3 linked regions of the Homo sapiens genome follow. The protein of the gene in region 1 interacts with the protein of each later gene in a pairwise test. Each region holds a gene or a part of one and is shown in the gene's direction. Other genes may lie near its edges. The genes, in order: PKNOX2, BMP2K and NUP54.

Evidence for each region.
Region 2: the proteins of PKNOX2 (region 1) and BMP2K interact in a two-hybrid assay, tested with the Homo sapiens proteins (one large-scale study listed by IntAct).
Region 3: the proteins of PKNOX2 (region 1) and NUP54 interact in binary tests that used the Homo sapiens proteins (3 or more experiments, as listed by UniProt).

Annotation. Positions count from the first base shown.
Region 1 is NC_000011.10:125,167,701-125,171,354, forward strand, and holds part of PKNOX2 (homeobox protein PKNOX2), read left to right. Parts: intron 1-3,654.
Region 2 is NC_000004.12:78,908,796-78,912,449, forward strand, and holds part of BMP2K (BMP-2-inducible protein kinase), read left to right. Parts: intron 1-1,814; coding exon 1,815-3,238; 3' UTR 3,239-3,654. UniProt on the Homo sapiens protein: May be involved in osteoblast differentiation.
Region 3 is NC_000004.12:76,141,789-76,145,442, reverse strand, and holds part of NUP54 (nucleoporin p54), read left to right. Parts: intron 1-969; coding exon 970-1,053; intron 1,054-1,150; coding exon 1,151-1,294; intron 1,295-3,654. UniProt on the Homo sapiens protein: Component of the nuclear pore complex, a complex required for the trafficking across the nuclear membrane.

The DNA of each region.
Region 1 (3,654 bases):
TCTATAGATTGCTTTAAGTTAATGAAAGTGCTGCTTTCAAAAGGGGCTTTTATTGTGTGGCAGTGGCAAATCCAGTACCTCCCCTTTACTCTTCCAAAATGGGCCTGTTTAAAAAGAGGGAGCTTGCTGGATCCCACATGGCAGAGCTTGGGGGAGGGTGCCATGTGACAATGAGAATTAATAAAAGTTAATGTCCAAGTGATTCTGAAAGACGAGTTTGCTTCTTTTCCAGTCCGGTTTCATCTGTTCATTCTCGTGTTGCCTTTGGGCTTTCACTGAGTCTGCCTTTAAATGTTGCTTGGTGCCTCCCCAGCAGCCTCTCCCAGCATTGCTTTAGGTAGGCCTGACCCCTGTTCAGTTAAACCCAAACTGGATTTCAGGATTTCAGCCCAGCTGCCAATTCAAACTGCAACTAAAATATTTACTTGGGACTGGGGGAGGGGCTTTGCCTCGCGTTTAGTAAGATAAATGTGTTTAAATGCCTGGGAACCTTGAGAAGGAACAAGGCAGGCTGTTTTTCAGTGCTTTTTGCTTTTTCAATCTGTTTGGCACAAAAGGTGAGATGACAAGGTTTTTGACTAGGTCCTAACACAGAAACTGCAGTGGGCTCAGGCTGTGGCTTTGACCGCATGTCATAACCATTTAAACTGTGGTTAGTTGTTCAAAGCTCAAAGCTTCTCCAAGCTGGGTTTCATTAACTCTACACCAGTTGCCTGGAAGTTCAGTAGCAATAAATTGTATAAACACATTTGAAGTAAGTTAGTGATGAAATAAGTAGAATTACTGTCTTGTGAGTGGAGAATCCTGAATTCATGGAGTTCTAGCTTAACTGGAAACATACCTCCTCTCCCTTGGCCTTGAAGTTTATGGGTGCACCAGAGTGTGTGTTAAATTTCTTTCTGCCATGTCCATCTTCAACCTGGGCTGTAACTCATTAGAGACCAAGGCATGCCTAGAAAGCAAAACGGCTGGATTTTAAAGGGGTCTCTATTAGCTTGGTTTAGGAATCAAACCAAACCAATTGACCTGACTTCTTTACCTTCCGTGAATCCAACGTGCAACGTAAACAGCAGCAGAGCAGGGGAAAATTAGATGTTTAAATGTTAGAGGCTTAATAATACTGCGTTGTTAGCAATTGAATTTGTTTTTATTAAAGAAACAACCAATAAAATTTATAGGCTTCCAACATGTTGCAAGATTTCCTTGCTATTTATTTAGCTTCCCCCTCCCTACTTTCTGAAATTCTATCTCTAATCTCAGGCTTTTGTTCCCGATTTATTTAATCTGGAGCACATTTTCTAAATTAGTTCGAGGAGGGTGAGAAAGGCTGTTATGAGTTTTCCTTTTTCCTACGCTGTGTGGCACAAGGACTGCGATGCTGTAAGATATATATAAACGTGTGATGCAATTGCTGGAGGTGACGGCATGTGAAGCCAAGTGTCTGGATCAAACAAAACGCAGATCCGAGCATGGAGAGGGTGAAAACGATGCTGCAGAGGAAAAACTGAGGAAGTTCTAATGGAAAATGAAATCATCATGAACCACCGTTAGCCTGAGTCTAGCCAACACACCATGCTTTGTATAAAACACTTCACGTGAGATCCGTGACTTATTGAAGACTGAATTATACTGAGAAGCAGAATTTAGAGGGAGGAGCTCCACGGGCTGGGTTCTATCCAGGCAGCATGGCCAGGATTGTTGCGATGGGGATCTGCTAATTTAATTAAATCTAATACCTGGTGGGAAAGGGAGGAAGGAGGGAGGGAAGTGGTGGGCAGATAATCAAGGTTGGCAGGTCAGCATGCTGAGCTAGTGTTTAGGCTGAAATTTAGTGGCCTGGTCTCTTTTGACTCTGTTATTGCCAGGGCTGCATGACTCCAGTGGGTCATCTAGCTTCTGGGCCTTGGTTTCTTCATCTGTAAAGTGGAATGTATCACACACAGTTCTCACTAGGGTGAGATGATGGGCTTGGATCAAGCACAGGCTGCGCTCTGAGTAAAAAAAATGGGAGATAGAGGCTTCTCAGCAGCAAAGTCACATTCTTCGGTGTGTTTTCTTTCCTCGCCTGGCTCCAGGGCCTTCCCCACAACTCTCAGGAGTTCTTAGGCTATAGTAAAGGGGCTGAATTCCTGCCTTGCATTACATCCTAGAATTTGAAAGGCCTGCTGTGACTCCAAAAACCATCTACACTTTACCAAGAGGGGCAATTTTGGCTGAGTTGGGGGATCCAGCCCGCTTCTTCCAAATGGTGTTACCTGGAATAGCTGTCCTGTATCAGACGAATGCAGAATCTGACTTATCAGAAATGCAGCCCCTTCTCTTTATTCCACTGGGAAGGCAAGGCCTGAGCCCTGACTGGTGTGTGTGTGACATCTGGTCGGCTGAGGGGGTTGGGTGCTGGTCTGCAGCTAGCCACGGCCTGAACCTCTCTTAGCAGTCTCTGCTGGCAGATCAAAGCAGATTCTGGGCCAGAAAGCCCAAGAAGTTACACCCGGCACTTACACAAAACTGTGTGTGCGCTCGTAGACTCCTTCTGTTCCGGTGTCTGATTTGTAAAAGCTAGCTCTGATCCTGGAGACGCGGCTCTGGTGGAATGCTTGTCTTTAATACTCCCTAGTCTTTGGGGATTCCTTGGGGTAATTTTTCCTCCTCATTTCCTTCTCAGCCAATCACAGGCAACATCTTAGTCTCCATTTTGATTGGGGGTGGGAGACAGGGCTGGGGGTTGAGAGAGCAACAGTTGGAGGGCACAGTCTTTCTACCTGAACTCCAGGTTTTCCTCCCGTCCAGAACCCCCAGGAGAGAGGGAGAAGCAAGCCCGGGACAGCTCAGTTCATCTCACGCGGTCAAGCAGAGCTTGAGAAGAGCTTGCTGCAAATGCGTTGTCTTCAAGGGGATCTGCTGTTTGGCTTGGATGCCTCACTGCAGGCCCGGCCTGCCTGGGTTTCTAATTACAAGAAGGACGTTTCTGCTAAGACCTATCTCACTAAAAACACATCCCTGTGTGTAATAAGAAACCCTAAACCAGGCAGGATATTTTAAAACTGAAGCAATGAAGATTAGATTAAGTCTCCACCAAACAGCTTCGTTCTTGTATTATTTTTGGCTGGAATGTGGAGAAAAGCAGCTGGCCCTGGGGCCCAGAGCAGACTCTGGAGAGTTCGGATAGGGCCGGGGTGGGTGGGGTAACTGTTAGTTTTCTGCTTAGTAGGAACGTGGCCAATTTGAGTACGGCTCAGTCAAGGCAGTGGGGGTGCCCAGTGGGGGAGGGGGGAGGCTGGGGTGGAGGAGGAGCCAGATCCAGATGGGCCAGAAAGCGGCCACAGAAGCAGCAGGTCACAGGGCACTGAGGCTTGTAAATCCTCCACCTCATTAGGACGTAGTCTTTTGTGTTCAATTTACATCTCTACTCACATCGCCATCCCAAATCTAGTAGAGAGGGAACAAATAGTTGTTGAGGATTCTTGGAAATAGAACCCAGTAATCGGGCATCATGGGCAGGTGTCCTGCCTTGCTGGGGAGGGGCAGCATGGCATTCACCCATTCCCTTTGTTCTTCCATTCAGCAAATATTTATAGAGCATCTTCTGTGTCCCCGGCACAGTCCTAGGCATTGAGGAGACAGCAGCAAAAACAAAGCCAAGACATTGCCATG
Region 2 (3,654 bases), on another chromosome or scaffold:
CATTTATGGGGTACATGAGATATGTTGATACAGGTATACAGTGCATAATAATCACATCAGGGTAAATGGGTTTCTATCACGCCACTCATTCTTTTCTTTCTGTTAATGGTGCTGCCATCCACCAAGAGTTTTCAATCTCTATTTTTTCTACTTTGACCCACCCTGCCACCACTGTCATGTCATCTAGGCCACCAAAATCTCTAACTTGCATTACTATAATTTCCTTTTGCCTGAACTCCCCTTCTTACCTTCCCTTAGTCTTTTTTTTTTTTTTTTTTTTTTTTGAGACAGTTCGCTCTTTGGCCCAGACTGGAGTGCAGTGGTGCGATCTTGGCTCACTGCAACCTCTGTCTTCCAGTTTCAAGCGATTCTCCTGGCTCAGCTGGCACCTGCCAACATGCCTGGCTAATTTTTCTATTTTTAGTAGAGATGGGGTTTCACCATGTTGGCCAGGCTGGTCTCAAACTCCTGACCTCGTGATCCACCCGCCTTGGCCTCCCAAAGTGCTGGGATTACAGGGGTGAGCCACCGCACCCAGCCCCCTTAGTGTTTTTCTATAGAGCAGTCATTTTTTTTTATGTAAACCTAATCATGACACCTATTTTAATAATAGCTTTCCATTATACATGGAATTTTGAATTAGATGTATAATGAAATATACGCTGCTTATCATGGCCTTAGAGGACCTTCACAGTCTGGCCTTTTCCAGTCTTCCTTACCTCATGTTGTACCTGATCCTCCCTTGCTCACTATATTCCAGCCACAATAGCCTATTTTCAGCCCCTTAAATATGTCTTTATATATGCCATTGCTTTTATTGGAAGCTGCTTCCAGCTTATCCTTTGCATGGCTGGGCTCCTTCTCATTGTTCAATCCTAACTGTCGTCTCCTTAGGGAGGTCTTCACCACTGTCCAAAGTAGGTTTATGCGCCCATTTCCCTGCTGTCCTTTATTTCAGAGCACTAGTCACAATTTATGTTTACTTACAACCTCTGACTGTAAACCCCTGAAAGCAGAAACCATGTTTCTTTTACTCACCAATGTATAATCAGTGTATAGCAAAGTGCCCTATATTTCTTTCGTTGAATGAACTCAGAAAATGAAGTGACTGAATGGATTCTGAGCTAAAAACATCTCCAGATGGTTTAGATTTGTTTTTAAAGGAATCTCGCTTTTTTAATGTAATGTATAGATATTATAATTAAAGGAAGTCATATCATCTAGAGAAGGCAGATGTTTTTGGTACAGTCTCCATTTAGTATCTGGTCCTTAGCTTTGGTGAGGCCATTCATGCTAAGTCAATTCAAAAGATAGTGGTTTATAAAAAATACAATGCTGATTTAAAAAAATAGTGAAACAAATACGTAACTGAGCAGGCAGGCTGTTCATGCTTGTTGATCTCTATGGGAAAACTTTACAAGAGTTGAAATATAAGCAGGAGGTATTTGGTGAATGTGAAATCTGAGCTTTCAGAATTAGCAGAATAATGTTATTTTGGTGGTGGGGTGAAGAAAATTTGCTAGTCTACTACATTCTGTGTGCTATAAATAAAATTTGGCTGTCAGTGAGAGTACGATGAGGCAGGGTGTAGGGTCCAGATATGAATAAGTCTGTCTACATTAAGACTTAACTATCTACCTGAGGTCAAATGCATTCTCTAAGTCTAATGACGAAGAATTGACAACATTATTTTTTCCTCTAAGGGAACTCGTATGAGGGATTTGTAATGCCATGTGTAATACATATTAACATTTAGTGCAAGAGGATTCTGAAATGCATTGGAATGCTGTAATAATATTTATTTGAACTTGCAGGTTCTCCTGAAAAGAAAGCTGAACATTCATCTATAAATCAAGAAAATGGCACTGCAAACCCTATCAAGAACGGTAAAACAAGTCCAGCATCTAAAGATCAGCGGACTGGAAAGAAAACCTCAGTACAGGGTCAAGTGCAAAAGGGGAATGATGAATCTGAAAGTGATTTTGAATCAGATCCCCCTTCTCCTAAGAGCAGTGAAGAGGAAGAGCAAGATGATGAAGAAGTTCTTCAGGGGGAACAAGGAGATTTTAATGATGATGATACTGAACCAGAAAATCTGGGTCATAGGCCTCTCCTCATGGATTCTGAAGATGAGGAAGAAGAGGAGAAACATAGCTCTGATTCTGATTATGAGCAGGCTAAAGCAAAGTACAGTGACATGAGCTCTGTCTACAGAGACAGATCTGGCAGTGGACCAACCCAAGATCTTAATACAATACTCCTCACCTCAGCCCAATTATCCTCTGATGTTGCAGTGGAGACTCCCAAACAGGAGTTTGATGTATTTGGCGCTGTCCCCTTCTTTGCAGTGCGTGCTCAACAGCCCCAGCAAGAAAAGAATGAAAAGAACCTCCCTCAACACAGGTTTCCTGCTGCAGGACTGGAGCAGGAGGAATTTGATGTATTCACAAAGGCGCCTTTTAGCAAGAAGGTGAATGTACAAGAATGCCATGCAGTGGGGCCTGAGGCACATACTATCCCTGGTTATCCCAAAAGTGTAGATGTATTTGGCTCCACTCCATTTCAGCCCTTCCTCACATCAACAAGTAAAAGTGAAAGCAATGAGGACCTTTTTGGGCTTGTGCCCTTTGATGAAATAACGGGGAGCCAGCAGCAAAAAGTCAAACAGCGCAGCTTACAGAAACTGTCCTCTCGCCAAAGGCGCACAAAGCAGGATATGTCCAAAAGTAATGGGAAGCGGCATCATGGCACGCCAACTAGCACAAAGAAGACTTTGAAGCCTACCTATCGCACTCCAGAGAGGGCTCGCAGGCACAAAAAAGTGGGCCGCCGAGACTCTCAAAGTAGCAATGAATTTTTAACCATCTCAGACTCCAAGGAGAACATTAGTGTTGCACTGACTGATGGGAAAGATAGGGGGAATGTCTTACAACCTGAGGAGAGCCTGTTGGACCCCTTCGGTGCCAAGCCCTTCCATTCTCCAGACCTGTCATGGCACCCTCCACATCAGGGCCTGAGCGACATCCGTGCTGATCACAATACTGTCCTGCCAGGGCGGCCAAGACAAAATTCACTACATGGGTCATTCCATAGTGCAGATGTATTGAAAATGGATGATTTTGGTGCCGTGCCCTTTACAGAACTTGTGGTGCAAAGCATCACTCCACATCAGTCCCAACAGTCCCAACCAGTCGAATTAGACCCATTTGGTGCTGCTCCATTTCCTTCTAAACAGTAGATACTTCTGATGGATTCTCGGCATTAACTCCTGTTTCAAAAAAGTGTGAACAGTTTTATGAATTTGAAAGAAAATTTGGTAGCTCTTTATAGCATTCATTCTTAAAGATCAGTCAGAATAGGTGATTTCTAAATAAACCAAATAGAAGAATGAAGTATCTCTACAGGGTAGTAACTTGATTCCTCTTCAGGAGAAAAGGGAGCTAAATTGCAAGCTCTAACTAAGGGTTTCTGCTACTGACATCACAACACAGAAATGCAAGTGTGGTACTTCCAGTGAAAGCACATGGCACCTTTCTAGGTGTGTAGCCACTGAGAAGGGACAGTGAAACTGTTATTTTTGATATCAGAATGTCATTTTTATGTGCATATCCCTAAAATTAGGGTTATTTCTACATACACTAGTTACACTTGTGA
Region 3 (3,654 bases), on another chromosome or scaffold:
TGGCAACAAGTCTGCCAATGTGATATGTTTGGCATGCTGTTTTCAAAACATTTGAATTCCTTGCAAAAAAAAGTAGTTGAATTAGGGTTTAAAAACCAATAAATTTTTTTTTTTTTTTTTTTTTTGAGACGGAGTCTCACCCTGTCGCCCGGGCTGGAGTACAGTGGCAAGATCTTGGCTCACTGCAAGCTCCACCTCCCGGGTCCACGCCATTCTCCTGCCTCAGCCTCCTGAGTAGCTGGGACTACAGGCGCCCGCCGCCACGCCCGGCTAATTTTTTGTATTTTTAGTAGACACGGGGTTTCACCGTGTTAGCCAGGATGGTCTCGATCTCCTGACCTTGTGATCCACCCCCCTCGGCCTCCCAAAGTGCTGGGATTACAGGCATGAGCCACCGCGCCCAGCCAAAAACCAATAAATTTTACATAGAAAATCCAGATTTCCTGTTTCTCTTGGGGTAAAAAATGGGAATATGTGACACTGCTAAACTACCTTTCTTGTATCTGCTGGAATTTAGGAACTGCTGATCTAAAAAACTATTCATTTTAAACAGTTCCACCTATCAGTAAACACATAGTCTACTTTACTCTTTACTGTTATCAGTCTAAATCTTCTAGGCATATGAATTTGCAACACCTCCTCTAAAAGTACATACATAGTCATTTTAGAATTATGGCAATAGGCTTAATGTGTTTTCTCAGCTGTAACTGTTAACCACCCCTTTAATTGAAGGGTATATATTACATTGTGATATTTCTATTTTAAATGCTTAGTTCATTTCTTGTAACATTTTGACTTCTTGATTGGTAGTATAGTTTTTTAAAAAATTGATCTTGAAAGTAGGGAAAGGAAAAATTAGATCAATATATTTTGATTTTATATGTAGCAATTATAAAATAATTTTAAAAAGAAGTTGCCTTTATATATACAAAAGATTCTTCCTTTCTATTTTTGTTCTTTTTTAATTAGGTGGGTTTGGAGGATTTGGGACAACATCTACAACTGCAGGTTCTGCATTCAGCTTTTCTGCCCCAACTAACACAGGCACTACTGGTAAGAGGCCATCTTAAGTCATTCATAGAAGTAAATGAAGTAGAGGTCAGATTTTTTTTTTTTTTTAACTTACGAAGTTCCAATTTTTCATTCAAAGGACTCTTTGGTGGTACTCAGAACAAAGGTTTTGGATTTGGTACTGGTTTTGGCACAACAACGGGAACTAGTACTGGTTTAGGTACTGGTTTGGGAACTGGACTGGGATTTGGAGGATTTAATACACAGCAGCAGCAGCAAACTAGTAAGTATGAGGTTTTCAGCTTCAAATACAAAACCGTGATGATACTAGCTGACATTATTGAGTGCATTCAGAATACTTTAGTGGACTTTTTATAAGAATTATTAATATATTCCAAAGGATTAGGAATGTTACTTTTCATGTTTAAATATGATAGCAACTGGGGAGAACACTGATTGGCACAGTTAGGATTATAAGGTCCCTGTGTTTAGGATCATTCCATTTAAATTTTTGTTGTTAAAAATAACAAATAGAGAAACTGCACAAAAGTACAGCTTAATGAATTATATATAAGTTTACAAAGGTTAACACCCTTGTAATCACTGCCCATGTCAGGAGATGGTTCCTGGCCAGCCAGTTCAGAAGCCTACCACATTTCCCTACCAATTGCTTCCCCATCAGAGGACCTGCAGTCTTGGCTTTTATGGTGATCATTTTCTTACTTTATATTTTGTCATTCAAGTATGTAAACAGTATTTGGTTTTGCCTGTCTTAAATCTCCATAGGCTCCTCTTTTATCTCTCTTTTTTATTTATTTTTTATTTTTTGAGACGGAGTCTTGCTCTGTCGCCCAGGCTGGAGTGCAGTGGCACGACCTCGGCTCACTGCAACCTCCGCCTCCCAGGTTCAAGCGATACTTCTGCCTCAGCCTCCTGAGTAGCTGGGACTACAGGCGCACACCACCACGCCCAGCTAATTTTTGTATTTTTAGTAGAGACGGAGTTTTACCATATTGGCCAGGCTGGTCTGGAACTCCTGACCTCGTGATCTGCCTGCCTCGGCCTCCCAAAGTGCTGGGATTACAGGTGTGCGCCACCGCGCCTGGCCTCTCTTTTTTATTTTTTAATTTGTTGAAGAAAACAGATCATTTATCCTATAGAGTTTTTTAGTCAAGACTTTTCTGATTGCACGCCTATGGTATAGTTTAACACATTCCTTTGTTCTCTGTATTTCTTGATGATTGGGTTAGATCTGGGGCGTACATATATATATTTTGTTGTTTTGTTGTTTGTTTGCAAGACTATTTTATAGGCCTATTTTTTATCAGAAGACATATAATATCTTTTTTTTTTGAGTGATCAGCCATTGAGCCATTGGTGATCATTACCTAGATCCATTAATTCATTAGGGGTTACAAATAGTGCCATTCCACCTGGATTCATTTATTTGTTGAAATACTTCTGTGAGGAGAAACTTGACTTCATCTGTTTGGTTGATTCTTTCTCTTTATTACTGGTTTTCAGAATAAAGAGTTGGTTATCTAGCATTCTCCAAAGATGACCAATTTTTTTTTAATGTCAGAAACTGCAGCCTTTAAACTAGTTACTATTTTTTAATCCATTGCAGTTACCATTCTTATTGATGCTTAAATTGTTACATCTTTGGCCAGTGCAAGCCTTTTCAAGTTGGCTCCCAAGTCCCTTTGAGACAGTCTGGTTATTAGTCTTTGATGGCTTCCTTACTAACCATCCTTACTAGGTGGTATGGCAGTAGGTTCCAGGGGTTGTTCTGTATGGATTAACTTATTCTCACAAGAACCCTGTGAAATAATACTTTTGTTATCCCCATTTTATGGGTGAAGAGAGGAACCTGAGAGATTGTGACTTACCTGTATACCTCTCTAGAAGAAGTACAGGGATGCAAATTCAACTACTCATTCTAGTGCTCTTTTCACTTTTCCAATCTGATGCCTCTTAAAATTACTTCTGTTTCATTTTTTTAAGTAACTTGATTGACTAGCTAAAATTCATCCTACTCAGTCACTGAAGATTAGTTATTAACTTATTAAACATGAATTTCAAGGATTGCCTAACAGTAGGATGAAGATAATAGAATAGTATTCTCAGAATTATTCTTTCAAGTATTCCAGTCATTCGTCTTTTCTACAATCCTGCAAAAATACAAAATTTGATGAAATATTTAAGTAGTTAAGGAAAGAACAGCAAAAGTGAAGTGTTTCCTTTGTTTCTTGAAATAAAGTCTCTCCAACTATGAGTAACTGTAGTTACATTTGGTTTTTTTAGGAAAATGGGAATTTGAATCTGGTGCTATTTTAAAATTGAAAGGGGCTCATTTTGTTATGTAATATCCATTTATTGTATATATCGTATGTCAGGCATTGGGTGTACAAGGTTGAAGACCACAATCCTTGCTCATAGTCAAGGAGATTCTAGGGTATCCACGCAGAGGAAATAACATGGCATGGTTTATGGCAGAGTATAATGCCTTTGGGACCAGTATAACTAGATCAGTGCAGTTTTTTTAATGCATAAATGACCTCAGGGTCAGTAGTGAGAGTTGGAGAGATAGATATGAATTGGATTATTAGCGTGCCTTATATGTTTTACTAAGGAGCTGTCCTT